Linked DNA regions of Homo sapiens: region 1 is linked to region 2. The links come from fine-mapping of genetic effects on gene expression. A gene starts in region 2. The other region holds a variant in brackets. All regions are shown on one strand. Distances are between the middles of the regions.

Region 1 (15,162 bases), 21 kb after region 2:
CAAGACCCTGTCTCTAAAGAAAAACAAGGTGGAGTGGAGAGAACTTGGTTAATTTGTACACGCTCACTTTGCTTGTTTCTTGGATTTTGCTAAACAGGCTCCTCAAGGACTTTGTCCATCCTATTTCTCATATCCCCAGTTGCGGGGCACATAAGAAGGGCTAAGTAAATCTTGGTATGCCCAGTGATCAGCCTGGCCGTGGCAAGGAAAAGGAAAAAAGGGGGGTGGGGGTGGGCTGAGAGTCCTGAGGAGGAAGGAGAGACAGGCTGTGGTCAGGGCTTGGGGAAGACCCTTACATGACAGCATATATGGGCTCCAAACCATCACAGGGAAGTTAGGGAGGGAGAATGCTTTGAAAGAGAGAACGTGCATTTGTGTGGTTCATTACCAAGTTTGTTTGTTTGTTTGTTTGAGACGGAGTCTCGCTCTGTCGCCCAGGCTGGAGTGCAGTGGCGCGATCTCCACTCACTACAAGCTCTGTCTCCCGGGTTCACGCCATTCTCTTGCCTCAGCCTCCTGAGTAGCTGGGACTACAGGCGCCCGTCACCACGCCTGGCTAATTTTTTGTATTTTTAGTAGAGACGGGGTTTCACCATGTTAGCCAGGATGGTCTCCATGTCCTGACCTCATGATCTGCCCGCCTTGGCCTCCCAAAGTGCTGGGATTACAGGCGTGAGCCACCGTGCCTGGCCCTATGTTTGTTTGTTTTTTTCTTTTTTTTTTTTGAGATGGAGTCTTGCTCTGTTGCCCAGGCTGGAATGCAACAATGCAATCTTGGCTCACTGAAACCTCCGCTTCCCAGGTTCAAGCGATTCTCCTGCCTCAGCCTCCTGAGTAGCTGGGGTTACAGGCACATGCCACCACGCCTGGCAAATTTGTGTGTGTGTGTGTGTGTGTGTGTTTTTAGTAGAGACGGGGTTTCACCATGTTGGCCAGGCTGGTCTTGAACTCCTGACCTTGTGATCCGCCCGCCTCAGCCTCCCACAGTGCTGGGATTACAGGCGTGAGCCACCGTGCCCAGCCCCATTACCAAGTTGTAAGCATTGCTAGGCACCTGCTGTCCAAGGCAGATTCAGGGACGCAGTGTCTGTGGTCTCTGGGATGGGAATACCACATTCCAGTGCCCTCTGAACACTCCTTAGAAGAGTGAAAGATTGGAAATGACCCAAGGAGCCAACAGGCAGACCAGGGTTAGTCAAAGTTACCGCTTCGTGACCACCCCCTTGACGCCCTTTAATTTCATTACTGCTCTTTGAAGTAAGTACTGTTATCACCCCGTCTTAACAGCTGAAGAAACTGAGGCTTAGAGAAATGAAGTCACTTGCCCAGGGGCATACAGCTCTCAATTAACAGGACGGACCCTTCCCCCAACTGGTCTCTGATTCAAAAGTCTGAGCTCACCACTGTAACGCCATTCTCCTCAGTTGCTAGAATACTTACTCTTTTACTGTTGAAGGGACACCAGTACATTGGGAACATTTATTTAAAATAGCAGTTGAATAGGCCAGGCACGGTGGCTCACGCCTATAATCCCAGCACTTTGGGAGGCCGAGGCGGGCGGATCACAAGGTCAGGAGTTCAAGACCAGCCTGGCCAGCATGGTGAAACCCAGTCTCTACTAAAAATACAAAAATTAGCTGGGCATGGTGGCTCAACGCCTATAATCCCAGCTACTTGGGAGGCTGAGGCAGGAGAATCGCTTGAACCCGGGAGGCAGAGGTTGCAGTGAGCTGAGATTGCGCCACTGCACTCCAGCCTGGGCGATAGCGAGACTCCGTCTTAAAAAAAAAAAAAAAAAAAAGCAGTTGAATAAAGAAGGAGACAAAAATAGTGTTTCCAACTGCGAGTATATGGAGCTGTAAACATTAAGATTAGACGGACATTTTTGAGGGACGAGCTTCAGCTTGGGTTTTTAGTAAGTGTACCTGGTTATTGAGTACCTGTGTGCCAGGATCTGTGCTAATGCTGAGGATACACAGGACACTCCAACAGCTAAGTCCTTGCCTTCAGGGCTTACACCTAAGTGACATGCTGAGTGGGAAACAGAAAATTGCAATGTAGTGTAATCGTATAATACTGGTATAAAATGTTTCAGTGGCCGGGCGCGGTGGCTCACGCCTGTAATCCAGCACTTTGGGAGGCCAAGGCGAGCAGATCACGAGGTCAGGAGATCAAGACCATCCTGGCTAATGCGGTGAAACCCCGTCTCTACTAAAAATACAAAAAAGTTAGCCAGGCATGGTGGCAGGCGCCTGTAATCCCAGCTATTCTGGAGGCTGAGGCAGGAGAATTGCATGAACCTGGGAGGCGGAGCTTGCAGTGAGCCGAGATTGCGCCAGTGCACTCCAGCCTGGGCAACAGAGCGAGACTCCGTCTCAAAAAAAAAAAAAAACTTTGGAAGCAAAAAGCTAATGTCTGGGATGGTTTCGGCAAAGGCCTCTCCCTGGTGAAGAAAGGTGTTCCAGGCAGCAAATACTGCAAAAGCAAAGGTCCAGAGGCTTGAGAGAGTCACCAAGGTGGAGTGGGTCTGGGGAAGTGGTGTGAGATGAAGGATGGGGTGGTCAGACTCCTGAGCCCCTTGAAAGCCCTACTTGGGGACTTTAACTTTATTCTGGAGGCAGTGAAGATGCCTTAAAGGTTCTAAAATAGCCGGGTGCCCTGGCACATGCCTGTGGTCCCAGCTGGTCAGGAGGCGGAGGTGGGGGGTTGCTTGAAGCCCAGGCATTTGAAGCTGCAGTGAGTTAGGATTGTGCCACCGCACTCAGCCTGGGCAACACAGCAAGACCCTGTCGATGGATTGATCAATCAATAGGTAGGTAGATAGGATTCAACACAGTGAGACCTGTCGATCGATCAATAGATGAGATAGAGTGTGTGAGACCCTGTCTATAGATTGATTGATTGATTGATCCAATTAGGCTTTATTACTCTGGGTTGATTCAAGAAAGGAGATTGTCCATGAAGGGGGTGGAACCCAGAAACCGCAGCTGTCCTGCTCCCCCGCCACACACACACCCCACCTCCAGGAGTCAGAGCTGCTGGTCTCCAGGAGGGCAGGGCCTCAAGGACAAGGTGGCCTTAGAAACTGCCACAGTAGTTGCTTCGGAAGGCTGGGTTATGGGTCAGAGACTCGTCTTTGGTCAACTTCAGTTACCTAGAGGAGGAATGCATTTTGTCTCCGGAGCGTATTACCTTTTCCAAACCCCTCAGGGAAACTGGCAAGTGAAGAACAGGTGGGAGGTCTCTCAGTCGACTCCTTTTTTTTTGGAGATAGAGTCTTGCTCTGTCGCCCAGGCTAGAGTGCCGTGGTATGATCTCAGCTCACTGCAACCTCCGCCTGCCAGCTTCAAGCAATTATCTTGCCTCAGCCTCCCGAGTAGCTGGGATTACAGGCACCTGCCACCATGCCTGGCTAATGTTTGTACTTTTAGTAGAGAGTCAGGATGGTCTCGATCTCCTGACCTCATGATCCACCCACCCTGGCCTCCCAAAGTGCTTGGATTACAGGCGTGAGCACCGCGCGCGGCCTCTCAGTCGACTCTTGAGAGGAAATCATAAAGGCCAGTGTGCATGGCGAGCTCGTTTTGCACCAAGCACTGTGCTAAACATTTTATGTACTTTATCTCATTGACTCATCCTAGCAACCCTTCATGGTAACTACTGTTATTCCCTCCACTGGCAGGCGAGGAAGTTGAGGCCTGAGAGAGGTTAGTTTAGTTTGGTGGTTAAGAGCACATGCTCTGTGGTCATGCTGGCTGGCCCTGAATCCTGGCTCCACCACTTAGTACCTTGTGACTTTGGGAAAGGTGCTTCCCCTCTAAGCTAAGTCTCAGTTTCTCCACCTGTAAAGAGAGCATGATACACCCAGGCACAGTGGTCCATGCCTTCTAATCCCAACACTTTGGGAAGCTGAGATGGGAAGATCCTTTGAGGCCAGCAGTTCAAAACTAGGCTGGGAAACATACTGTCTTTACAAAAAAATGTTTAAAAATTAGCCAGGCATAGTGCCACGCACTTACCGTCCCAGCCACTCAGGAGGCTGAGGTGGGATCGCCTGAGCCCAGTAGTTTGAGGCTACAGTAAGCTGTGATGTCACCACTGCACTCCAGCCTGCATGACAGAGCAAGACCCTGTCTCTTTAAAAAAATAAAATTAAATTTAAAAAAAGGTGTGGTAACAGTACTGATCACAGGCATCCTCTGGTAAGCATTTCCTAAATGCTTCCCTTCCCTTTCCTGAGGCATACTTCTAGTATGCAGGGCAGCCAAATACAAGCTCAGGTGTGTCCAGCCTCAGAATCTCAAACCTCAGCTGCTTTGATCCACTGCTGCTTTTGCTCAAGAAAGAAGCAAAGCTTTGAAATGGAATGTTTCTGAGTCACAATTTGATCCATAAAAACATGAGCTAGACATACAGAGGGTCCTGGCTAAGTCTGACAAGTGCTGGCATACTTTGGATTCTGTTAGGCACCTTCCTGCCTGCTGCCTTGCTCCCTCCGGCTCTGGCCCCGGGGGTCTGTGGCTGCCAGTAGTTGCTGGAGTTAGGGGCTCCAGCAAGCTCATGTGGGCTCATTTCTGCTCTTAGCCAACCCTTTCTTCTTTCCCCATTCTTCCTCTTTATGCCCCCTGCCCCTGCAGTGAGAAAAAACGCAAGCCTGCATGGACCGATCGCATCCTGTGGAGGCTGAAGCGGCAGCCCTGTGCTGGCCCCGACACTCCCATACCGCCGGCGTCACACTTCTCCTTGTCTCTGAGGGGCTACAGCAGCCACATGACGTACGGCATCAGCGACCACAAGCCTGTCTCCGGCACGTTCGACTTGGAGGTGAACTTCTGGGCTGCCTGATACTTGCCAGAGGAATAGCTATGCTGGCCACATCCCCAAGCCCTCCATCCCTGGATTCGAATGTCAGCCAGTCCCCCAGGGGAGACCTGTGGAGGCCATGATTGCCTTTCCTGCCAGGTCGGATATCCCAGCTCCTCTTAGGAGCCGTTGATGGCTCTGTCTGTCAAAACCGTGTTCAAACCCTTTGTGAAAAGGTTTCCATTTCCTTTGGGTATTCTCCCTTGGGGCTAATGAGTTCCATTAGGCTTATTACCCAATGTGAGAAGTAGGACTTCTTTTATTTGTCCTAAATCTATCTGGATCAAGTTGCAACGGGCGCTCCCTCCATCCCTGCGTCCTTGTATCTTGCTATCTGAATGACCAAGGTGGTGTTGGCCTCCTTCAGGCTGCTGCCCCTCAGCCTTCACGTTTTCATACAGGTTTACTGGCGTGTGTGTGTGTGTGTTAGGGTCTCGTTCTGCCGCCCAGGCTGGAGTGCAGTGGCGGTATCATAGCTCACTGAAGCCTCCACCTCCTGGGCTCAAGTGATTGATCCTTCCACCTCAGCCTCCCTAGTAGCGGGACTACAGGTGCACGCCACCACGCCTGGCTGTTATGTATTTTTTGTAGACACAGGGTTTCACTATGTTGCCCAGGCTAGTCTCGAACTCCTGGGCTCAAGTGATCCTCCCAAACTGTTGGGATTATGGGTGTGAGCCACCGTGCCTGGCCCCCGCTGGTATCTGCGTTGTGTTCTTGCACGTTCACAGCTGTTCTCACCAGAGCATCCCCCCATGTGGGGCTTTGGGTCAGATAAGGCGGGAGGCCTGAGAGCAGCTGCCTGGCCGCCTCCTTAAGCCTCTCAGCCGTGCCTCTGCTCTCCGCCATTCCTACCCCCCAGCGCTGGGCCCCATGGGATTCCGACAGGGCCAGCCACCCGCCGACTGGTGTTCGGCCCTCTTTCCTGATGGCCAGCCAAGGTCCGTTGGAGCAGCCCAGTGGAGTTCCATGCCCACCCCCTCTGGGTGCCCCACCTTCCCCACTATGTTGGAAGGGCACAGTGAGGAACACTTGGCCTCAGAGGAGGGAATGATGCTGCGAGATTCAGCCCCCTTCCCACCCCCGTGTCTAGCTGAAGCCATTGGTGTCTGCTCCGCTGATCGTCCTGATGCCCGAGGACCTGTGGACCGTGGAAAATGACATGATGGTCAGCTACTCTTCAACCTCGGACTTCCCCAGCAGCCCGTGGGACTGGATTGGACTGTACAAGGTGATGTGGTGGCAAGGCAGGAAGTCCATCAGCGACAGCCCCTGGTTCATCCTTCCCGAGGGCTCCTGGGAGCTGGGCAGATGCTGACGAACTCACCCTCATCCACCCCAGCGGTTCTTCTGTAGCTAAAGGCTGGCAGTGAAGGGCGGCGGGGAGGCACACAGTACGGTAGCCAGGCCCAGCAGGGAGACCATCTCTTCCTTAGGACTTGCCTTAGGTCCCATGTCCTCCCTGACCACTGATGGCCTGACTCCCCCTCACAGGTGGGGCTGCGGGACGTTAATGACTACGTGTCCTATGCCTGGGTCGGGGACAGCAAGGTCTCCTGCAGCGACAACCTGAACCAGGTACGTCACCAGCACCAGGTACATCACCAGCAGGCAGGCCTGCCTCAGCACTCCTGTCTTGTGGAAGGAACAGAGTGCTGAATAACTTGTCACTCAGAGCTGGGTGGAGCCCAGAGCCCTGGAGCTGACCCCAGTCCTGTCCATCCCCCTCCAGGTTTACATCGACATCAGCAATATCCCTACCACTGAAGATGAGTTTCTCCTCTGTTACTACAGCAACAGTCTGCGTTCTGTGGTGGGGATAAGCAGACCCTTCCAGGTAAGCAGTGCTGGTGAGGGAAGGGGAAGGGTGAGGGCTTGAGCTCATCACTGGCTCCCTGAGGCCCAGGCCTGGGAGCCAGCCGGTACATGAGGGGCCGCTGCAGTGCAGGAACGGGGGTGATGGAAAGCACGGAGGAAGACCCGCTCTCCATTTCCACCACCTGCTTTATCCCTGCAGATCCCGCCTGGCTCCTTGAGGGAGGACCCACTGGGTGAAGCACAGCCACAGATCTGAGCCAGGATGGGAGTGAATCCCAGGCGGAGGCCAGAGCTGGCAGCCAGCTCTGCCTTTCCACTGCCGGGAGTGCTGGGGGCCCAGCCTGGCCCCCTGAAGAGACAGCCAAGTGTCGTCCACATACTCCTCCCAGAGTGAGCTCTAACCAGGCTCATTTGCTCTCTCCACTACTCATCTCTGGAATTAGCCGCTTAAATACAGGTTTTTGTTGCTGAGATGTGAGTGAAACCAGCTAGTGTGTCAACAGTGAAGACCTGGGGACAGTTCTGCGTCTCATTTCTGGATTCCTACCCCCTCTTCTAGTCTTGCCCAAGTAGTCCTGCCAGGCACATGCCCCATTTGGCACAGGCCTGCATTCTTGTCGTGCCGTCCTGGGCCTCAGGCTGTCTGGGAGGGGAGATGCTCACATTTGTACAGGCTACATAGACTGGTGCAAGCAGTGCTGGATTCCAGGAGTCTTGGCATCTCATAGCTTGTCCCCGTGAGGAGTGAGCAGAGGGTCTGGGATTTCTGCTTTCAGCAAAAGCAGTCTGACTCAGTGGGCAGAATGGAGGGGCCCCTCTAGCCAGGCTCTTACGCCATGGTTATGAGCAGGTTGATGAGGGTCCTTCGGCCAGCACAACCTTCCTCCCTACTCACGGCATGGAGTCTGACTGCATGGAAGTTCCAGATCCTGACAGAGAGAACTGGGAAGGATCCAGGTTCGCTTCCGTTGGTAGCTTGAGTCCCATGCCTCCACCCTGCCATCTGAGGAAGGGGTGACAAGTGGTCAAGGAGCTGTGGCCACAGACTTTTCCAGGGTGGTCCTTGGCAGGTGAGGTGCGTCTGTGCCACCCTTGTCAGGAGCCATTGACGACGGGCCCCCCCTGGACCCCCCGGGACCTCAGAGTGGGGGCAGGCAGAAGGGAGAACCAGCTCAAGACATTTTGGAGGATCTGGCCCTGGGGTTCTTCAGAGAACACCCTCTAGGGGCTTTGGGGACATGGCCTGTCCCCACATCCAGCACTTGCCTCCGCCATGGTCACTCGGCAGCCCTTTTCCCAGGAGAAGACACCTCTGGGAGCCTGCTCAGTGCTTGTCCTGCCATCCTGTGTCCTGGGACTGAGGGTTACTCCAGTTGCTCTGTGTTGCATACTCTCCCCCGCAAGCCTGTGTATGAAGAATTGTCCCCTGGCTTCCAGCAGGCCATGGCTGGCTGTTTTGTGACTGTTACATTGTGCAGGGGTAATTATTAGCGTGGCTTTTACACTTGCGTGTGACTGATGATTGGGGGGTGGGGGTACGGTGATGGGCCTGGGACTAGCTGTAGATTCCAGGAACAGGGACCCTGTAGATCCCAACTAGACTTCTGTGTCTGAGA[T/C]TTGCAGAAGTGGCCAGGACTGGGGCTAGGATGAGGTTCTAGAATGGTGAGCCTCTGGGGCCCTAACCAGGTGGAGCATGCCATCTATGCCGGTGGCCGCTTAATGTACTCTGTTAAGTCAAATGAGCTCTTGTTCATCCCTCCTGACCCGCTGCTCTGCATACCCTGGTGTTGAGCCTTCTGCCTGCGTTAACCAGTCCAGAATGCCACCATCTTCTCTTTCTGCCCCACTTCTCCTCAGCCCCTTCTTGCTGAGTTTTCCCCCATGGTAACCTATCCCTGCCCCCAACACATATACCTAGGGACCTCCAAAGCCCTCACTTGCCCACCTGTTCCTTCTCACATGCACAGCCATCACGAGGGTTACTGCATGGCACCCTTCATTGGGCAGATGGGAAAGCCAAGGCTCAGAGAAGTGGTACAGTCTCTTCAAAGTTCCAGGCACCTGTGGTTTCCCACAGGACCAGAAACAGGAATGGGGTCTGAACCCACCCGCAGAGCGGTCTCAGTAGTCTGTAAAATACAGATGATGTCCCTATTCTCAAGATTACTGTGGGAGAACAATTGCAGAAAGTGTATCGCACTAGACCCGCCTCCCCGTTCTGATTAATGCGGCCCCGGGGCTTGACCCCAGGGGTCCCCCCACATGCTCACCTCCCCCGTGGTGAACTGAGGTCGCCACACACCCAGCCTCCTGTGTGGGAGGGGTGAGCCCAGCAGTGATTGAGAGGCGGAAAGGGGAATGGGGGGTGCTCTCCGTCCTCTGGGCCCCAGTCAGGATATGGCCGTTCTGGGTCCACCCCGACCCACTGGGTGGAAACAGGAAATAAGTGAGACCTGGTGTGCACTGGGTCTACGCCTGGCTCCACGGCTGATAAGGGCCATTGTGTGGCCGCCGGGGATGAGCCTGCTCTGGATAGATGTGCTTCCCGGAGGAAGGAAGGAAGGCTTGCTAGCTTTTCCGGGGCGGGGGAAGCTGTGGGGAGAGAGAAGGGTGCCGGGGGGAAGGCCCCTGCCTATGGGGCTGTCGGTGCCAGCACACACCCACGGGACTCAGCCCTTCCTATGCCAGCCTCTCCCTCTGGAAAGGTCTGTTTCCCCTATCCACTTCCCTGTTCTTACTTCCTATAAGGAATGGCTGGAGACTGGAGGGCTCAGTCTCAGGCCAGGAAAGTGTCAGCTGTGATTTAGCAACAATAAAAATAGAAAAGCAGGAACATCAGGGGTGGGGGTCACCTGGGGGTACTGTTGAAACGCAAGGGATGAACAGGGCTAGAGGTTGCCCACACCCAGGGAACCCAGGAACTAACCTCACAAGCTCTGAGGCTCAGAGGAGGGTAAGCCAAGAGCTTCCTCACAGCGGGACAGCCCCCTGTCCGGGCCCTGCATGACCAGGCCCCAGCAGCCCTGGTCTCTCAAACTCATGGTGGGGGCTCACCTGCTGTGGGGGGCAGCCCCGTTGAGGGGATGTGCAGGAAAGCCAGTGCCTACTAACGGGTCCTCTTGGCCTAGGGGAGGGCATGCCGTCTGGTTTGGGGAGTGGGCCCCGTGCTCTCTAGGTGGTACCAGAGAGTGGGCAGGAGGAGGGGCCCAGCCATAGAGCTGCCGTGGGGATGGGGGGAAGGGGAAAGGCGTCCTAGCCTTTGACCTGGAGCCCAGGGTCCCCCATGGGTGGCTGCATCGGCTCCTCTGGTTACCTGGGACAACAGGCATTTCCTCCATCCCCAGCCCCTCCTCTTCCTGCTCCAACCATCCGGGCCAAGAGGCCTCCCAGTCAGACCTGGACGGCTCCAGCCGTGTCCTGAGGAGCTGGACCAGCCACATCCCCTGGGGCTGCAGTTGAAGCAGAACCAAGTGGCCATCCCGGCGTTAGACCGTAGGTTCCTGGTCCCGGAGTGGTCGGAGCCCGCCAGTGGGCAGGCAGCTCTTGCTCACAGGCCGCGGTGCCCAGGCCGCTGGCTCTCCGCAGGGCGGAATGGCGCTGCAAGTGGAGCTGGTACCCACCGGGGAGATCATCCGCGTGGTTCATCCCCACAGGCCCTGCAAGCTTGTAAGCTGGGATGCTCTGGGCTGGGAGGAGGGTGGGAGCGTCTCCCCAAGGCCGGGCAGCCCCTCTCAGGCGAGCCCTCGGGCAAGAGCTGAGCAGCGGGGAGGGGTTCCGATCCTTGGCGGGGCCAGAACAGACTGAACAAGACGGGGTGAGTGGAAGAGTAAGGATGCAAGGGCCACTAGCAGCAGGATTTTTGGAAGTGGAGGTCTGGGCTTGACTCTTCCCCGGCTTCCCGAACCTCAGTGGGCAGAACCGTGAATACTGGGCACAAAAGGCAAGTGCCGGCTGCTGTGAGGTCGAAGGACCAGGGCATGGAAGCTCCAGGCTCAGTCAACGCCCCGCTCCTCTCCAGTCCGCAGGGCTGGGACCGCCCAAGACTCAGAACAGAAGGACGGTGTGGGAGGTGGGTGAAGGGTCACGGGTGGGTAGAAACGGGGGAGCGCGGCCCTGGCCCGGCCCGCAGGAAGGGGCTGGAGATGCAAAGGGCCCGGAGGAGGGAGAAAGTCGGGCGCCCCCACGCCCCCAGCAGCGCGGCGGGGAGCCGGGTCTTCGGCCGGAGGGGCGCGCGCGTGTTCGCTGTGGCCCCGGGAACGGGCCGAGGCGGGGGCCGCACGCACCGAGGCTTCGCGGACGCGGCCGGGGCTGAGGCGGGGCGGGGCGGGGCCGGAGGGTGCGCGGCCCTGCCCGGGATGACGACAGGCTGCGGCCCGGCCCCCGGCGGGCCCTGGGCGGGGAGAGTGCGCCCGGGCCGCGGATCCCCAAGCCCGCCACGCCGCCCAGCCCGGCCCCGCCCGCGCCGGAAGAGCCACGCCGGTGGGTACTCGGGGCGCGGGGACGGCGGCCGCGGGGGGCGGGTGTGGGGAGCGGGCGGCCGGGCCGGGAGCCGCCGTGCACGAGGCAGGGGTCACGGCCGGGGATCGCTGGGGCCGAAGAACGGCCGCGTGGACCCGTGCGGGGGGGGGGGGTCCCACGACCCGGAGGCGCCGGCGCAGCCTGGTGGAGACTTAGATTTACCTGCGGGGAGCGGGAGGCGGGGAAGAGCGGCCTGGGCTGCAGGACCCAGGACCCTGCGCGCCCTTCGGGCCCCGCCCGCAGCCCTGCTCCGCCTCTGGGTTCCGGAGAAGCCGCCTAAACCCGCCCCTTCCCGTTCTCCGCCCCTGGGGCCCAGCGCGCCCCGAGTGTGACGGGCGGGGGGCTCCGGGGTGGCCGGAGAAGGAGGATGGCCACGCGGCCCTCAGTCCTCACGCTCCGGCCTCCCGCGCACACGCCTGGCTCTGAGATTCATTCATTCATCCAGGGGTCCGGGAAGGGGTGACTGAGCCCCACCGTGTGCCTCGCTGCGTGTAGGGAGTGGGAGCCGTCTCCTGGGAGGGACTGACAAGGAAACAGCTGATTCCTGCGGGGTGCGATAAGGAGGCGCTGCGTGTTTGGGAGAATCAGGAAGGGGTTCTGGAGGAGGTGACACCTGAGCCGAGTCTCAGTGAGGTGGGCAGGGAGAGTGCCCCGGGCTGGGGAAGCCGCAGGTGCAGGCACTGAAGCTTGGACTGGCTGGCGACGGTGCGAAGGCCCCCTCCTGGGGGGAGGGGTGGGGGGAGAGGGGACTGGAGCGGGCCATCTGGCACATCGGAATGCAGGAGCAGTGGGGTAAACTGGGGACAGCAGGGGGGTCTCGGGAGTTCATAGGCAGGGTCCTGGTAAGCAGCAGTGAGTGTGAATCATGGGCCTGGCATATGGAGGGTGTCCTAAACCTTCACTCTATGAACATGAGGTGTTGATTTGATTTGTGTTGCCCCAGAGGAAATGGATTGGTAGGAGGAAGGCAAGGAGGCCAGTTAGGCTGCTGTCTTGGCCCAGGTAAGGAGCAGTGATGGAGGTGAGGTTTTTGTTTGTTTTTGTTGTTGTTTTGTTTTGTTTTGAGATGGAGTCTCGCTCTGTTGCCCAGGATGGAATGCAGTGGTGCGACCTCTGCTCACTGCAACCTCCACCTGCCGGGTTCAAGCTATTCTCCTGCCTCAGCCTCCTGAGTAGCTGGGATTACAGGTGTGTGCCACCGCGCCCAGCTAATTTTTTTTTTTTTTTAGTAGAGACGGGGTTTCACCGTGTTAGCCAGGATGGTCTCAATCTCCTGACCTTGTGATCCACCTGCCTAGGCCTACCAAAGTGCTGGGATTACAGGCCTGAGCCACCGCGCCCGGCCTGGAGGTGAGGTTTTAGCAGGTCGTGACTACTTGGTGTGAGGAGTGGAGGCAGGAGAGCAGGCCTGTTAATGCCAGGCTGTGATGACCAGCTCAAACAGTGCCACCCTTCTCTCTACAAGGACATTAAACAGGGAGTACAGGTTAGGGGTCAAAGGCCCTCTTTTTTTTTTTTTTTTTTTGAGACAGTGTCTCTGTCACTCAGTCTGGAGTGCAGTGGCATGATCTCAGCTCTCTGCAACCTCTTCCTCCAGGATTCAAGCAGTTCTCCTGTCTCAGCCTCCCAAGTAGCTGGGATTACAAGCGTGTGCCACCACACCCTGCTAATTTTTTGTATTTTTAGTTGAAACAGGGTTTCACCATGTGGGCCAGGCTGGTCTGGAACTCCTGACCTCAAGTGATCTTGCCTGCCTTGGCCTCCCAAAGTGCTGGGATTACAGGCATGAGCCACCGCTCCTGGGCCGTTTACTTTTTTTTTTCCCCCATACAAATTTATGTTAACATGTTATGGGTTTATTGCTTTGTTTCTTTGTTTGTTTGACACTGGGTCTTCTGGGGTACCCAGGCTGGAGTGCAGTAGCACCATCACAGCTCACTGCAGCCTCAACCTCTTGGGCTCAAGCAATCCTCCCACCTTAGCCTTCCAAGTAGCTGGGACCACAGGCACACACCATGCCTGGCTAACTTTTTAAAAAAATTTTAGTGGAGGCAGGGGTCTCACCACTATGTGGCCCAGGCTGGTCTTGAACTCCTGGCCTCAAGCGATCCTCCCACCTCGGCCTCTCAAAGTTCTGGGGTTACAGGTGTGAGCCACTCACTGCACCTTGCCTCTGTTCACGTTTGCTGGACCCCCCAGGCAGAGGTGTCTGGCAGCCAAAGATCCATGGTTGTGTAGCTAGAATGGACAGTCCTTGACCAAGGCCCTGTGAGCAATCAGGGTAGAGACCCTAAGTCGCCACTATCTCCTCCCCATTTCCCTTCACAACAATTCCCTGAGGTCTGGAACGGTCCTTGGTGGGCAGCCAGGCCCAGATCTAAGATTTGTTTAATAAACAGAAGTTGAAGCCCTGCTCTGTGCCACCCGTGAGACAAGCTGTGGCTGCCTTTCTGCTGCCTTGGGCTCAGTGGACATCGGTTTATAGCAGCAGTCCCGGGTGCCTCAGATGACACCTCCTCCCAGCCCCCAACACCCCTACCCCATGGCAAGATCTGTGTGCCCTTAGGCTGGGGGAACATTTGAGCTTTCCGCTGTCCGCAGAAGTCAGGCTTGTAGGCACCTGGCCTATAGGAGCTGAAGGGCACTAGATAGCCCAGGTCTGCTGGGCCACCCCATCCCCTGTGGTTCCAGTAAATGCCTCCCCAGGTGGGAGAAGACCCAGAGGCAGCCTTGGGGAAGAAGTCTCCTATGTCACTCAGGGGCCATGGCCTGCAGGGAACCTCTAGGCCCAGAGCCAAAGGCCCTGGCCCACTCCTAAAGCCCACATGTGACATAATAGAATCACACGACACCGACAGGGGCCTGAACGGTGTCACTGAAGGTCACAGCCCTGGTAGCCCTGATAACCGCACAAAGAGGCTCAGGGCAGCCCTGCAGTAAGGTGTTCCAGTGCCCGGGTTCCAGTCCCACTCCTCCTGAGACCTTGCACAAGTCACCTGCCCAGCCTCAAGTTCTTCTGCATTGGAGTGATGATACGGACCTCACGGCTTGGCTGGCGTCACTGAAAGGAGTAACCCAAGAAAGCGCGGAGAACGCAGGAGGCGCCTGGCGCTGCAGCCTCAGCCGCGGCGTCTTTCCCACCCAGGTTCCCCGCTTCCCTCCCCGCCCGGGGCTCGCGCTTCCGTCCAGTGAGGAGGGGCAGGCCGGGGGTTGCCAGTGCTGGAGCCGCCCTGGGGCCCGCGAGCGGCGGAGACGCCCCCTCCTTCCGCCGCCGGGCGGTGGCTGCGGGGGCGCCAGCGGGCATCCCGGGAATGCGGCGGCGCGGCCCGGGAACTGGAAGAAGCGGGCCCGACCCCTCCGCGCGCGGATTCCCCTCATTCCAACCGCGTGACGTGGAGGGGCGGGGCGGACACTGCGGCCGCGAAGCTCCGCCCCGTCCTCTGGCCGCGCCCCCGCTGGCTCCTGCCACGCCCCCGGCCCGAGTCCCCCACGCCTCGCGGGGCAGGGAGAGAGCTGAGCTTCCGGGAGGGGCTCTCTTGACCCTCTACCCCGTCTTCTAGGACGTTCCCCACCCCTGGGCGGGCTGGAGGCTGGGTCGCCTCCTTGCTCCCTCTAGATTTTCCTTGTTCTGTTTTGTTTGGAGACGGAGCTTCGCTCTGTCGCCCAGGCTGGAGTGCAGTGGCACAATCTCGGCTCACTGCAACCTCCGTCTCCCGGGTTCAAGCGATTCTCGTGCCTCAGCCTCCCGAGCAGCTGGGATTACACAGGCGCCCACCACCACGCTCAGCTAATTTTTGTATTTTCTAGCAGAGAGGGGGTTTCGCCATGCTGGTCAGGCTGGTCTCGAACTCCTGAACTCTGATGATCCGCCCGCCTCGGCCTCCGAAAGCGCTGGGATTACAGGCGTGAGCCACCGCGCCCGGCCCTCCCTCTAGATTTTAAACCTGGGGGCACCGCAGCGGG
Region 2 (15,162 bases):
CTTGGGATGCTGAGGCAGGAGGATCACTTGAGCCAGGGAGTCGAGGCTGTAGTGAGCCATGATTGCGCCACTGCACTCCATCCTGGGCAACAGAGCCAGACCCTGTCTCAAACAAAACAATACAGTCTAGGGAGTTTCATTCTAGCAGCTATGCTCTTAGGTGCTCAAAATTTGTTGAACATTATAAAGAACAAAAGTTGAGCAGAAAACTAATGGATAGTGAAGAAATACTTATTGACATTCTTCACATAGAATGGAGTTTTCAAATCAGAACTGATTTTAGAGAGATGACGTCTACAGTATCCCCAGTGATGTCTGCCTGGAAGGTGCCAGTGACAGGGACCACTTGGTGCTTCCACAGAAGCCCCCATCCTGTTTTCCAGCAGCCTTGCACATCTGTGGATCTGAGACCTGCACCTGCACTTTCCACCTCTGCATCCTTGTGCCTAGTTCTGACACCACATTGTGCCCACCTTTAAACAGGTCAGGAAAGGGAAGTTCTGTTACTCTGCCGGGAACTCCTCTCCCGGAGAGCCACAGGATTTTCTCCCTCATTTCTCTCAGGTTTCATCTCAAACCTCACATACAAGCTTCTGTAACTACCTAAAATAGCACTTACCCACAGTCATTCTGTATCCGAGCAGCCCACAGTCCTAGCTGACATAGATGAATGTTTGTTCTCTGCCCATCCTGCCCCAGAATATAAGCTCCTTGAGGAGAGAACTGGTCTGTTTAGTTCACAGCTAAATATTCCCAGCCCTCTGGAAGTCCCTAGCACTAAAGAGATGCCTCACTGAGGCTGGGTGCGGTGGCTCACGCCTGTAATCCAAGCACTTCAGGAGGCCAAGGCAGGCAGATCATCTGAGGTCAGGAGTTCAAGATCAGCCTGGCCAAAATGGTGAAACCCCGTCTCCCCTAAAAATACAAAAATTAGCTGGGCGTGATGGTGCATACCTGCAATCCCAGCTACTTGGGAGGCTGAAGCAGGACAATCGCTTGAATCCAGGAGGCAGAGGTTGCAGTAAGCCAACTTTGCGCCACTGCACTCCAGCCTGGGCGACAGAGCAAGACTCCTCACACACACAAAAAAAGATGTTTCGGCCAGGCGCGGTGGCTCACGCCTGTAATCCCAGCACTTTGGGAGGCCGAGGCGGGTGGATCATGAGGTCAGGAGATCGAGACCATCCTGGCTAACAAGGTGAAACCCCGTCTCTACTAAAAATACAAAAAATTAGCCGGGCGCGGTGGCGGGCGCCTGTAGTCCCAGCTACTCGGGAGGCTGAGGCAGGAGAATGGCGTGAACCCGGGAAGCGGAGCTTGCAGTGAGCCGAGATTGCGCCACTGCAGTCCGCAGTCCGGCCTGGGCGGCAGAGCGAGACTCCGTCTCAAAAAAAAAAAGATGTTTCATAAGTATTTGTTGAATGAATAAATGAATGAAACGGGCCAAGTGTGGTGGCTCACACCTATGCTGTAATCCCAGCACTTTGGGAGGTTGAGGCAGAGGATCGTGTGAGGCCAGGAGCCCAAGACCAGCCTGGTCAACATAGGAAGACCCCCCCACACACACCTCTTTACCAAAAAAAAAAAAAAAAAAAAGGTGCTTCAAACACCGTGACACGAGAGAACTAGAAATCATGGATGGTGAGACCAGTGACACAGATCTGGAAATGTATGGCTTCGAGTCCATATGCAGAATTCTTCCGTCCTTCCAGTGTCTTGCTTTTTACACAAAATATGCCCCACCCCACCTATGGGCAGGACTGAGAAGGCAGGAGTTCCATCAGCAGCAGGAGCCTTCCATTTGTCCTGCTTTTTTTGTTCCAGATGAGACAAAAGGACCCAGTGAAAGGAATGACAGCAGATGACTAAAGCCGCCTTTCCCCTCTGCACTGTACGTACCAAATTTCTCACTGTGCGTGTCACAGACGCTAAAATCAGTTTGGGTTTCAAGGCCTCAGCAGCTCACTATGGAGTCAGAAAACCTATTCCTCCTTCCCTCTAGTAATGATGGTTGCCACGCTCGATAGCTCTCCACTTCCACTAGGAGATTATGGCCCTTGGGACATTTCAGGGACATTTTCCAAAGAACCACCCAGATAGAGACAATGGACAGGGAGGGGGTGGTGGATATAGAAGGGGAGTTCATCTGCTGCGAATCACTCCTCCTGTCTGCCAGCTTGATCCATCTCAAGTTGCAGCTGTCATGTTGGGCACTCCCTGGCCTTCCCACGCCAGCGCCAGCTCCCAAAAGCTGCCATTACCTGCCCTTCCCCCTTGGAAAACTTGCTGGCCAGACAGCTTTTGTTAGCACCCACTGTTGTCTGGTGCTTCATTTCCTTCTTTATACCCCCGATCCCATACTAAGCTGCCCTCATCAGAGGTGGCATCTTTCAGATGCTGGGAGGGTGTTTCTGCCCAGGTCACAGGGCCAGATTGGGGGCCCCTTGTTTCATGTTGTCACTTTTCCCCAAGCCCCCTCCTTCCGTTAACTCTCGGTGCTGGTTTCCCAGTGCCCTGTACACCACCCGAGTCATGGGATTCCAGCAGCTCAAAGCAGTCTTAATCACTGAATGAAAAACCTGGCTCTGCTCCCAATTAGCCTCAGAGAGAAAATTATTTTTACAAATAAAAGCTGGCCTCTAACCCTACGGGCAAGGAGGGCCAGGGTCTCACCAGGAGTGACGGCAGGCCCTGCTTACTCTCCCTGCCCCATGTTCCCAAAGCAGCCTCGGGGAGGCTGGAGGGTGGAATGAGGCGGACTGCTGTGATGCCAGCTTCTCAGTCACTGCTCTGGGCCTCAGTGCTCTCCCCCACTCCCTTCCCCACCCACCCACTGGCTTCCCTCCTCCTCTTGAAATTATCCATTCAGGACGATTTACAGTGTTTCTGTTTTCTCCTCTTGCTTCCTTAATACTTTCATTTTTCTTCTAGTTTTGCAAGACAGTGGTCAACAGGAAGACCCAGCAGCTCCACCCTCCCAAGTGACAGGCCATTTTCGGACGCAGCCGTTCTGTGCCCATTCTTCAGGCAACTTTCGATTCCTTACTGTAGCTAATTCTAGATGCCCTTCAGTATTGTGAACAAATAGACCGTCTGGTGTCACAGAGCCCGCGTGTGCAGGAGCCTGCTCCTCCGAGATACGTGGCGTGTAGGTTGCTGTAGTTACAGCGCCTCCGTCTCTCTCCATTGTGTTCCGATCCATTTCTGTGTGTTCCCCCAACCTTTATTTCCAAGTGACATTTTCAGTCTTTCAAATAGCTGCCTTTTGTGATGTGGTGATTTAAATGATTTAAGTTCATTTGTTCTCAACCTTGGGGTAAACTGAGGTATTTTGCTTCCTGGGAAGATCTTCGCAATTTTGAGTGCTCCTGTGGGGAGCGGGGATGAGCTAAAGATACAATGTTTCCCTGCCCCGCACCGCTTCCACAAAATAGCAATGTGGTTTTGCAGCTCTGACTTCTGCTCCCAGTAACCCATCGTTAGGGCACTCTAGCACTATGGAGGTACCCAAGGCTCAGCCAGTCTCTATTTAAGAAAATTTAACAAATACGAGTAACCCTGTCCCAATCACTGAATCTCTAGTTACTACTCTTAGAAACACCTGTGGCTTCTTGGCCCTCCTGTTGCCCGCTCTGAATCTCTCTGCAGTCTACAAAATCGCCCCAGTCAACTCTCCACTTGGAGGGAATTGTCCAGTGTGGCCCCTAGAATTGAGTCACCCCCTAGATACCAACTGTCTGACCCCGAGGAGCTCTGTAAGTCCCTGCTCCTCCTCTTCCCTTTGGGGCTGGTGCTGCCACTCAGCAATAATCCTCTTTTCTCTGTGCTTTCTTAGGTCCCTGTCCTCTGTCTTTGAGGCTGGTTAGGAAGCAAGAGTCCTGATCTTTCATGCTGCACAATATGAGCATGCAAAAAGCTTTTTCCAGCAGAACATGTTCCCTCGTCTCCAGTTGCCGGAAAGGAATTTGGGGATCAAGAACTTAGCTCGTCCTACCCCCATGTTGAGTTCTGCCCTGGAAAACCCAAAGCAAGTAGTGATCATAGTACAGAACCCGACCAAAGTAGGCTGGTGAGGAAGTCCAGGCTCCAGGGGAACAGACGCTGCCCAGTGTTCATAGCTTCCTGCAACTTGACAGAGCCTGAGTTTGCCTCTTAGTGGGAGAATGAGAGAGAGCTGTAGTGTCACCTGACATTCCCCAAACCTTGTGAAGCACGTTGGCCTAAGTGTGCCGTGATCCCAGCCCACACTAGCCTGGGTGCATCTGCTAATGGGAGACCAAATCTTTGTCCGGGAAGCAAGAAGTGGGTGGGAGAATGTATCCTGTTTTTGTCAGTTTGTTTGCCTTACTCATTTCTAAGTGCAATAAGGGAGTGTCTCACAGGATTGCACCTGTGACATCCTGATGGATGCTTCCCTGTGGCCCTCCTGGGGCAAGGGTGGACAGACTCAGACCCCCAGCATGGTTAGCGCTGACCTTCATTGAGGTCCCTTTGGAACCAGATGTCTTGTTACAGACACCTTCCTCTGTGTAAGTCTCCTCACCTTGAGGGGTCTTTAGTAATGCATCTGGGTAGCATCTCAACTGCTGGTAGCATTTATCTGACTTGGAAAGTTGGAGAAGAGGCATTCCTACTGGAGAAAAATGTCAGTGTTTTCCTATAAGCTCTGTGTTAGCTATTCATTATATTTGTGCTTAAAGATGTTCCTTCATTCATCAACTAGGGGAAGTCCAGATGCGGGTTATCTTGAAAGAAACAAACTGACATTCTAGGCAGACAGTTGTCTATGTGGTCTGAGGGTCAGCAGCTGTTAGTCTCCTTCCTTTGGCTCTTGAGACCCACACATATCACTTTAGCCCTAACAAGGGCTCCTCCCACCTCCACCTGTTGCCCCAGTTGAAAAGCATCCATTATGAGCTGAGGTCAGCCTGGATCTGGAATTGCAGCCCACATAAACATAAAGGAGGATGTCCCTGGTCTGTTCCATCCCCACGGATGGTGTTGCTGCTGGGCAACAGTGTTGGCTTCTTTTAAGTACCCCCTTTCCTCCTCACCCACCTCCAAACTGACTAGCACTCAGAGGGACTTATGATAAAGGTTCAGCTCCAGGGGTAGTACCTGAGTGTGTGCCATGCCCCTTCAGACCAGCTGCTTCCATCAGAATTCCAGGGTCACAGCCCCAACAGAAGCAGCAGTGCCTCTGTAGGAGGGGTGCTGGGCTCTGGCCTTCTCATGCAGAGAGGTCCGGGACAGGGTCAGTATCGTGGGCATGTGTATAGCTTCCCAAGTTCTTTTACAGTCCCTGCTGGGACTCCCTGACTTACTTTGGTTGGTTCCTAGTGCTACTTGTTTTACAAACTACACTTTGTAGAATTGATTAGATTACCTTGTTTATTTAATGTGAGTTTGTGCCTTTTTGTCTCAATCTTCCAATACAGGTATATTGAGAAAAAAAGCAGTCTAATAAAATCCTAGACAGAACTTTCTGGAGTCCAGTTTGGTGATGTCCATTTTCCAGCTGTATGTATCCTCAAACTTGCACTGATAACCGCCATTTTACCAGGGCAGGATTAGGAAGAGGTACAAAGGTGTGTCTGAAAATTTTTGCACGTGGATTTCTGCATATAATAGTCCCGTGTCAGTTTACTTATGCAAACATTGCACATCTGAATTGTAATTCGGCCGTTTCCTACTGACAGGATGTCCTTTTGCTTTTGTCTGCCTCCTCTTCACATCTTCCTCTTTATCCACCCTACCAAACAAGCAAAACATTTATTTAAAGTAGTTTTAGGCCGGGCGCGGTGGCTCACACCTGAAATCGCAGCACTCTGGGAGGCCGAGGCGGGTGGATCAGCTGAGGTCAGGAGTTCGAGACCAGCCTGACCAACATGGCGAAACCCCATCTCGGCTAATTATTATTATTATTTTTTTTTTTTGAAACGAAGTCTCGCTCTGTCGCGCAGGCTGGGGTGCAGTGGCGCAATCTCGGCTCACTGCAACCTCCACCTCCCGGGTTCAGGCGATTCTCCTGCCTCAGCCTCCCGAGTAGCTGGGATTAACAGGCGCGCGCTATCAAGCCCAGCTAGCTTTTGTGTTTTTAGCAGAGACGGGGTTTCACCATGTTAAGGCCAGGCTGGTCTTAAACTCCTGACCTCAAGTGAGCCGCCCGCCTCGGCCTCCCAAAGTGCTGGGATTACAGGCATTGAGCCACCGCGCCCCGGCCTACGTTTCATTTATTGACGGCTAATTCTGTAGGAGTCCAGGAATCCCCAAACGTCCCATATGCAATAGGTAATCCAATAAGTTTGGAGTAGAAGCCTGAAAGTGGGCGTGGAGAACGGAGGCGCTCCCGCAGTAGCAGGAATGGGGAGATTACCTGCAGCCGGGGGGCGGGGGAGACCGGATCCCAGGCAGGACAGTGGCTAGGCTGCGTGTCCCCACCCCCGACCCTCGTTTGACCCCTGGGAGCCGGGGCGAAGACAGCACAAGGACGGAGCCCTCGGATCCCTCACGAGTGGGGCAGAGGCTGCGGCGGCGGCGAAGAGACAACTTCCGCCGGAAGACGGCCCCTGGCGCGGGGCACGCTGGGAGCTGCGGACGGCGGGCGCGGGCTGGGCCGGGTCTAGTGGCGGCCGCACACCTCGCGTCGTCTGGGGCAGTGTTGCGCGTGCGCTGATGACAGGCCCGACACGCCCCTCTTACGTCCGCGAACCCGTCTTCGCTCAGCCTCTCGCAGCTTTGCGCTCGTGGGAGAGTCCCGCCTCCTTCTGCGAACCGCACCACCCAGATCCCGGGGTGCGCGGAGGGCGCGTCTCTGACGGAAGCCGGGGCGGACGGTCGGAGTCCGGAAGAAAAACAGTCCGCGACAGCTAGGCGCGTGAGACCGGCCGCCCGCAGGGCTGCTCTGGCCGGGACCCGCTGGCCGGGAGACGCGAACCTGCCGGACCACCGCGCGGGGACGACGGCGGCCATGAGCTCGCGGAAGCTGAGCGGGCCGAAAGGCAGGAGGCTCAGGTGAGGGCACCCTGGCGGCAGAGGCAGGCCTGCTCGGGGGGATCGGCGCCCCTTGGGCTGCGGGCTGGGGGTGGACAAGGCACCAGACCTCCATGACTGCCTTTGGTTCAGAGGCGCTCTCGCCTTCTCCCACGCCTGTGTCAGGTGGGCTGTGTTGGGCCCGAGCCTCGCGCCCCCTCTAAGCCGAGGCCGCCAAGCTCGTTCCCACTGGGGCGCAGCAGGTGTCCCGGTTGCTTTCTGGAGAGGACAGCCGTGTGGGGTTGTTTGAGGTTAAAGACATAACGAGGCCGTCACCCTTCGGCTCTCGGTTAGAAATCTTTTTCCTACTTTTCATCAGCACATACATCAGGAGGTCTGCCTGATCCCATGGTGAACCCCGGGAATCCGAAATCAGATTGAGATAAGATCCTTTAGGGAAGTGACTTAGCCTGGTCTCTTGCCTGCTCTTTCACGGGGAACAACGCTAATCGCCCACTTAGTCTAAGTCACGATGCTTGGATTTGCTGCTAATCGTCGGATTTGAGAGTGGGAACAAGAAATCCGGACTTTTGCTCTCCATCCTCTTAGAGTGAGTCTGGGAAAAGAAGTCTCTGAGTAAAAGGTCTTTGTTCCTTAAGCCTCTGTCGGACAGCAGGGGGAGATCGTAAACAAATGAAGCTCAAAATCTCAGGCCGAGTGCCTGGGAAGGTGGTTTCTGTATAGTGTTGTTTATGCTAACAGGGAGGGACAGGAAGTTGCTTTAAACTGGCCAAGAATTTCTTGAAGTGCTTTTGAGAACGTCGACCTCTAAGGACGGGGTCTGTTGGAGGAGAGATGTTTTGGCATTAACTGCCCTTTTCTCCCATCCCCCTGTACCCTCTGCCATTCCAGATCTCCAGCTGCTGCAGGTACTCCTCATCGTGTGCCTAGGACTCATGCTAGGCTGTTCCTGGTCTCTGCAGGGTCTGTAGCTCCTGCCCGCTCTGTGCTCCGCACAGTCTGAGGCTTCTTGAAGAGCTGCTGTGACTGACTGTTCCACTAAAGACATCTGTAGGTCTCTCTTTCCTGAGCCTCTGACTGGATCCAGTGTCATTGAGGCCCCTTATCTAGTTTTCTTGCTTCCCTAAGACTTGTAAGCTGAGGTGGAAAATATCCAACTGATGACTTTTCCCCAGAGAGTACTCTTTATTTTTCACGGAATACTACGCAGACATAGAGCATAGACTCTTAAGAGAGATGTCGAGAAACCTGTTACTTAAAAACTCCTTGGCCGGGCGCGGTGGCTCAGGCCTGTAATCCCAGCACTTTGGGAGGCTGAGGCGGGCGGATCACCTGAGAGATCAGGAGTTCAGGACCAGCCTGGCCAACATGGTGAAACCCCGTCTCTACTAAAAATACAAAAGTTAGCCAGATGTGGTGGCACACACCTGTAATCCCAGCTACTTGGGAGGTTGAGGCAGGAGAACTGCTGGAACCTGGGAGGCGGAGGCTGCGATGAGCCGAGATCATCCCAGTCCACTCCAGCCTGGGCAACAGAGTGAGACTCAGTCTCAAAAAAAAAAAAAAAAAAAGTCTCGCTGAAGTGCTTGGCAAAATTGGCTTGCTCCAGGGATCTGCTAGGGAGGAGAGAGGAAGGGAATATGGTGGTGTTATCTCTTTTATTTTTTAAATTCCTCTGCCCTTGTAGTGCTGAGGCCTATCACAAGGTGAAATCTGAATCCCTAGGATCTTCCTGGTGGTCTTAGGAACACTTGGGGTGAGAAGTAGGGATCAGAAGTTGCCGACTGAGCCATAGATGATGACAGAGGGGTGTGGGTGGCTGGAGGAGCTGATGGAATTAATACATTCCTGGCAGTTCAGCCCCCTAACCCTTCGCTAGCCTGACCTGAAATTCTTGGGCTCCCTTTGGCGACTCTGCTATATCAGCAGCACCAGTGCTGCCGGGTGTGGGTGGCTGTGAGCCAGCATGGAGGACCCAGTCCGGGGTGGGGATTTCTTGCTTCAGCAGAGAAAGGTGAGGACGGACAGCTGATGGTTCAGTATCCCCATTCCCTCCACCAGCACAGAAACCCACATTTCCCATCATGAGTGTGGCAGATTGCAGTGACATAAGCAGGCCTAGACCCCGTGCACTATCTTTTTTTTTTTTCTTTTGAGACAGAGTCTCACTCTGTCACCCAGGCTGGAGTGCAGTGGCACAATGTCGGCTCACTGCAACCTCTGCCTCGTGGGTTCAAGCAATTCTCCTGCCTCAGCCTCCAGAGTAGCTGGGATTACAGGCGCCTGCCACCATGCTGGGCTAATTTTTGTACTTTTAGTAGAGACGGGGTTTCACCATGTTGGCCAGGCTTGTCTCGAACTCCCGACCTCAGGTGATCCGCCCACCTCGGCCGCCCAAAGTGCTGTGATGACAACGTGTGAGCCTCTGCGCCCAGCCGACCCCGTGCACTATCTTATCCTCCTTCCTCCATGACTTCCCTCTGCATCCCTTCCGCAGCATACACGTCGTGACTTGGAACGTGGCTTCGGCAGCGCCCCCTCTAGATCTCAGTGACCTGCTTCAGCTGAACAACCGGAACCTCAATCTTGACATATATGTTATTGGGTAGGTATCTGCAGGCTCCTTCGCCCATCCCTGACCAGTCCCAGGTTTCCCTGTGGGAAGCACTGTGACCTGCCCTCCTCCGCTCTGGAGTCTGAAGGCTGGGAGCTTTCAGCCTGCTTCAGGGACAGTCCCATGTCTCTGGTCCCGGGTCAGCAACGGCAAAGGGGGCTGGAGATCAGCAGGCAGGGGAGGGAGACCTCATGGCCATCAGAACTCAGGCCTTGAAAGTCCGTGAAGATGGTATCAAATATCTGTGGCAGGGGAAGTAGCCTGGAGGCCAGGGGCCAAGCCTCTGAGCTGGCATGGTCAGTTTGCAGGAATTGAACTCTGGGATCATAAGCCTCCTTTCCGATGCTGCCTTTAATGACTCGTGGAGCAGTTTCCTCATGGATGTGCTTTCCCCTCTGAGCTTCATCAAGGTAACTTGCCAGTTCATTGGCACTTGACAACTGTGTTTTCACATCTCCACTGACCCCTGCTTGTTGGGTCTGATGTGTTCCTCTTACTCCTGCTCAGCCTTTCATGCTGTTTCCCATTTGTTTAAAGGGCTAAACCTCCCTTCCACCTGGACCCCGGGGCCCCTGCCTGCCTTCGCCTTTCTGAGGGAGCTGGAGTCTCCAGGGGTTGGGTTAACACCTGGATATGTTTCAGCTTGGGAAGATTCTGAGGGGAGGTGCAGCAGGGCTTGTCATCACCTCAGTGCTGGCCGCTGCCCCAGCCACCAGTCTCTACTCAAATGCCCATCCTGAAGTCTCTGAGTGTAATCATACGGCTGTCATTTATCAAGTGCTTACTTGTTGTTACACATCATAAGTAGCTCTTTATAGTATATATGTTATTTTAAAATCTTAACAAGTCTGTTGAAATAGAGATATTTTACAGAGAAAACCATGGCTCAGAAGCCACATGCGCTATCTGGGATTTGGATCCAGATCTCTCAAACTTCATAACCCAAGTTCTTAACTACTAATACCTTATTGCTATGCTGGTGAACTCTAAGACTGACAGATCTTAGGCGTGGCTAGCCTGCTGGTGTCATAGGGTATCCTCAGGTCATACGGGACGTGCACTTCAGATTCTGGGGGTCCAGAGGTTAGGAGAGGGGAGTCAGGTGTGGTGGGTACTTTGGGCGGCTTTCTTAGTCTGAGAGACCAGTATACTCTGGGGTGTCTTTAGACAGTAGGAGAGTCCACAGGAAGGCCCTGGGTTGCCAGATCTTCACCTTCACCTTGGTTCTGCCCTGCACACCTGAGGAATGAAACACACTCCCATTCACAGCACCTGGTATACAGCTGCTTAGAAATACCAGAATTCCCTCTTTCCCCTTCCTGGATGACTCTTGTTCTTCAGAATGGATTCTGTCAGCCTAGTTTGCCTGGGGGTACTGAGGCAAGAGCTGTGTGTCCTTTGGAGGGGGAGCAGAATGGGGAGGAAAGAATCTAAGGTTTAGAACTCCTGCTGAGGATAGAAAACACCAGCCCGAGTCCTTGGTTCCCTCCACATCAAACCCAGAGGCCTCCTTCTGTAGATAGGGAGCTAGATCCTTACAGAGGACACAACCACTTCTCTCTCACCCGCCACTCCCTTCCCAAGACTGCAGGCCTCCTTGCTTCTCGGCTGACTGGCAAAGGATTGGTAGGATGGAATTGAGCCAAGGAAATTAGCTCAACTTGTGGCAGAGACACAGCCCTTTCTACCCATGTGGCCTACTGAGATTGGGAGGCCAGACTGAGGGCCTGGCACCCAAAATGAATGCCCTTCTTTCCCCAGCCAAGAATCAGGGTGGATGGGTGAGCTCCGTGCATTTGCCAGCTATAGACTGAGAAGGGCTGACCCCCTTCCACTGCTCCAGGGCCCCCAGCCACCTCCTGCTAGTCCTTTCTTCGCTCCTCCTACTTCATTTCCTCCAACTAGAACTTTCCCTAGAACTCTCCTGCTTTTCCCACAGCCCCACCCTTTCTCCCAGTCTAACTCTGTCCTGCCCCGACCCCACCCTCCCCGCCCCCACTTCCCTGCTGCTCCTTCACAAAGCGAGCCAGTGTCTTTGTGGTGGAACCCAGTGGCCTAAAGCTGCTTTGTGGGTGGGGATTAAGCCTGAAACTTTTCCTGAGTCTTTATCAGTCCCCTTGCTTCAATCCTGACCCTGGGAGTCAGCCCCTCATGGTCCAGCCCGTCCTCCATCCCTGTTGGCACGTGTGCTTGGGTGTAGGAGAGAGAAGACTGGGGAGGAAGTAGGCTTGAGGACACACCTGTAGCAACCTCTGGCCCACCTGAAGTTCTGATGCCTCCCTTACCCAGTGCTGGGTTTGAGGTTCCCCCTGCTTCGACTCCGCTATGCCAGGGCTCGTGGCCTGCAGGATCAAGTTTCATAATTCCTGGAAGGCCCCAGTACACGCTCCCCACCCGGGGATTTCCTCCTTGGCCTCCACACTTCATTCTCCGGAAACGGCTCCTCGGGTGCCGGTGGTAGACAGCCTGAACCTGAGAGGGAGAGCTACTGGCTGCGGCCCATTCCCACCCCACCTTTTGCAGCTGCAGATAGTAGGGATCTTGGCAGTCCTAGCCCTTTGATGTTGTTTTACAATACAGGTAGCCCTACTGGTTCCTTAGCCTCCCTAAATCTTAGTTCCTCAACTACAAAACAGGGACGGTGATTCCTTACAGGCTTGGCAGGAGTAAATGAGAGAGGAGGCACTTGAGCAGATGTTAGCTATTCTCCCTAGCCTGTGCACATGTGTCCTTACCCACTGGCATTCCATGGGCGTTGCCTTCATGGACACCCAGCTGCACGCAGTATATAGTTATGGGGTTTGGGGGGAGCATTTTCTTATTTTTTTTTCACTGAGCTATAATGTACACAGAAAAGCATGCAGAAATTCAGTGTACACTTTGATGGGTTTTTGCATATACCCATGTTACCATCAGCCACATCTAGATAAAGAGCAGGCCGAGTACAGTGGCTCATGCCTGTAATCCCAGCACTTTGGGATTATAGAGGCAGGGAGATTGCTTGAACCCAGGAGTTCAAGACCACCCTGGGCAATATGGCAAGACCCTGTCTCTACAAAACAAACAAAAATAGCCGGGCATGTTGGTGCACACCTGTGGTCCTAGCTACTCAGGAGGCTGAGGTGGGAGGATTGCCTGAGCCCAGGATGTCAAGGCTGCAGCGAGCCGTGATTGCACCACTGCACTCCAGCCTGGTAGACAGAGCGAAATCCTGTCTCTAAGTAAAAAGGGAGGAATGGGGGCAGCTGGTGGATAAAGAACATTTCCAAGGAGAGAGGGAGGAAGGGAAGGGGATAAAGAAGAGCATTTCCCAGTATCCTGGAAACCTCTTATGTTCCTTCCTTTTAAGAATGCTTGGCCGGGCGCGGTGGCTCACGCCTACAATCCCAGCACTTTGAGAGGCCAAGGCAGGCAGATCACCTGAGGTCGAGAGTTCAAGACCAGCCTGGCCAACACGGTGAAACCCCATCTCTACTAAAAATACAAGACCTGGTGGTGGGCGCCTGTAATCCCAGCTACTTGGGAAGCTGAGACAGGAGAATCACCTGAACCCAGGAGGTGGAGGTTGCAGTGAGCCGAGACCACGCCATTGCACTCCAGCCTGGGCGACAGAGCGAGACTCCGTCTCAAAAAAAAAAGAATGCTGAAACCAAAAAATAATAGCTTTCAGATAATCCCCACAGCATCTATGAGATGGATTCCTACTTTATCAATGAGAAAATACACTGAGAAACTGCCTCAATGTCAAATACTAAGAATCAGAGCCAGGGTTTGAACCCAGATCTAACTTCAAAGCCAGTATCCTTAGCTTATCTTCTCTTCCCGCCACCCGCACGCCTAGGCGCAGAATCGAAAACCTCAGCCCCCAGAATGTATCATTTGGCAGCTGAGAAGAAGAATGGAAAGGCTTGAAACTCTGAGATTCAAACTGGGATATCGTAGACCCTGGAGCAGGACACTGCATGTAGCTGAGGGCTCTCTAGAGTCCCTAGCACGGAGCTTGGAAGGGATGCACTTGGCCTGTGTGGTTTAATGAGCGACCTTTGCCCTCTCTCTCCTGCAGGTCTCCCATGTCCGTATGCAGGGGATCCTCTTACTGGTCTTTGCCAAGTATCAGCATTTGCCCTATATCCAGATTCTGTCTACTAAATCCACCCCCACTGGCCTGTTTGGGTACTGGGTAAGGACTGAGCTATTGTCTGAGTCGTGAGCTGGGAAGGGCTGGGAACTGTGGAGCTGGGCAAAAGAAAAAGGAAGTGAAAGGAATCTTGGTCCTCTGTCCAGCCCAATGCATGTTTGTTCTTTTGCCTCAGAGTGGGCTTGCTATCCCTGAGGCCAGGCGAGGCGAGCTGGGCTCTGTGCATGGAGAGATCACCCTGGGAAGCTTAGTTACTGTCCCTAGGAGACCCTGCAGGAAGTGAGACTGTCTGCCCTCAGGTCCAGGATGTGGAAAGAGGGGTGTGTCCAACCCGAGTAGCTTCCCACTCTTCTGTTGACCTGTTCTACCAGGGGAACAAAGGTGGAGTCAACATCTGCCTGAAGCTTTATGGCTACTATGTCAGCATCATCAACTGCCACCTGCCTCCCCACATTTCCAACAATTACCAGCGGCTGGAGCACTTTGACCGGATCCTGGAGATGCAGAATTGTGAGGGGCGAGACATCCCAAACATCCTGGACCACGAGTGAGCCTGGGTCTGGCAGACCGTTCCCCGCCCTCTGCCCCACGCTAACCCCCACTAACCCCCACGAGTGAGCCTGGGTCTGCAGACCGCTCCCCGCCCTCTGCCCCACGCTGACCCCCACGAGTGAGCCTGGGTCTGCAGACTGTTCCCCGCCCTCTGCCCCACGCTGACCGCCACGAGTGAGCCTGGGTCTGCAGACTGTTCCCCGCCCTCTGCCCCACGCTGACCCCCACGAGTGAGCCTGGGTCTGCAGACCGTTCCCCGCCCTCTGCCCCACGCTGACCGCCACGAGTGAGCCTGGGTCTGCAGACCGTTCCCCGCCCTCTGCCCCACGCTGACCCCCACGAGTGAGCCTGGGTCTGCAGACTGTTCCCCGCCCTCTGCCCCAGCTGACCGCCACGAGTGAGCCTGGGTCTGCAGACTGTTCCCCGCCCTCTGCCCCACGCTAACCCAAGCCAGCATCCTCTGCTCCATCACGGATCCCCCAGCCAGTGTCGTCAGTGTTCTGGCTCCCACCCTCTCCCTGACCCTTCCCTGGTGCCCATCTGCTGTCTCCCCTTGCTTTGCCTGCCTGGGGTCCCCTTCCTCCAGCCCGTCTGTCTTGCTTAGAAACCCTGAACACTTGGGAACAGGTCAAGGACCTTGTGGCTCCTGAGGTCACCAGGAGGGCTTCTCAGCCTTTCCTCGTGACCAGTTAAGGAGAGGAAGGAAGGGCCACAGCCTGCTCTGTGTTTGCCAGAGCAGGCTCTTTGGTAGGTCTCTCCGGTTTGAATGGTGGTTTAGGAGCCATGAGAACAGTTCCAGAGGACCCACGCGTGCCCTGGCGTCTCACTTGCCCCTCAGGTTTTCTGTGCCCCAGCAGCCCTTGGG

Evidence for each region. PIP is the estimated chance that this variant, and not a neighbour inherited with it, causes the effect.
Region 1: its variant is fine-mapped to the expression of INPP5K in whole blood (INTERVAL, PIP above 0.99).

Annotation. Positions count from the first base shown.
Region 1 is chr17:1,487,598-1,502,759 of GRCh38, reverse strand. MYO1C (myosin IC) reads left to right here and starts at 10,074. Exons shown (of 32, transcript NM_001080779.2): 1 at 10,074-10,347. The coding sequence starts at 10,273. It overlaps INPP5K (inositol polyphosphate-5-phosphatase K), which reads left to right. Exons shown (of 12, transcript NM_016532.4): 8 at 4,638-4,824; 9 at 5,957-6,094; 10 at 6,358-6,441; 11 at 6,596-6,700; 12 at 6,881-8,183. The coding sequence ends at 6,937. It overlaps LOC105371483 (a long non-coding RNA gene), which reads right to left and starts at 9,973. Exons shown (of 2, transcript XR_934145.4): 1 at 9,135-9,973; 2 at 8,066-8,810. RefSeq lists silencers at 10,819-11,218, 11,299-11,738, 14,285-14,754 and an enhancer at 11,023-11,742. The variant T/C (reference allele first, on the strand shown) is at 8,298.
Region 2 is chr17:1,508,308-1,523,469 of GRCh38, reverse strand. It overlaps INPP5K (inositol polyphosphate-5-phosphatase K), which reads left to right and starts at 6,858. Exons shown (of 12, transcript NM_016532.4): 1 at 6,858-7,014; 2 at 9,491-9,598; 3 at 9,909-10,017; 4 at 13,671-13,787; 5 at 14,117-14,292. The coding sequence starts at 6,971. PITPNA (phosphatidylinositol transfer protein alpha) reads left to right here. Exons shown (of 12, transcript NM_006224.4): 11 at 1,825-1,891; 12 at 2,932-5,752. The coding sequence ends at 1,869. PITPNA-AS1 (PITPNA antisense RNA 1) reads right to left here and starts at 6,551. Exons shown (of 2, transcript NR_028514.1): 1 at 6,377-6,551; 2 at 5,374-5,752. RefSeq lists a silencer at 6,473-6,772.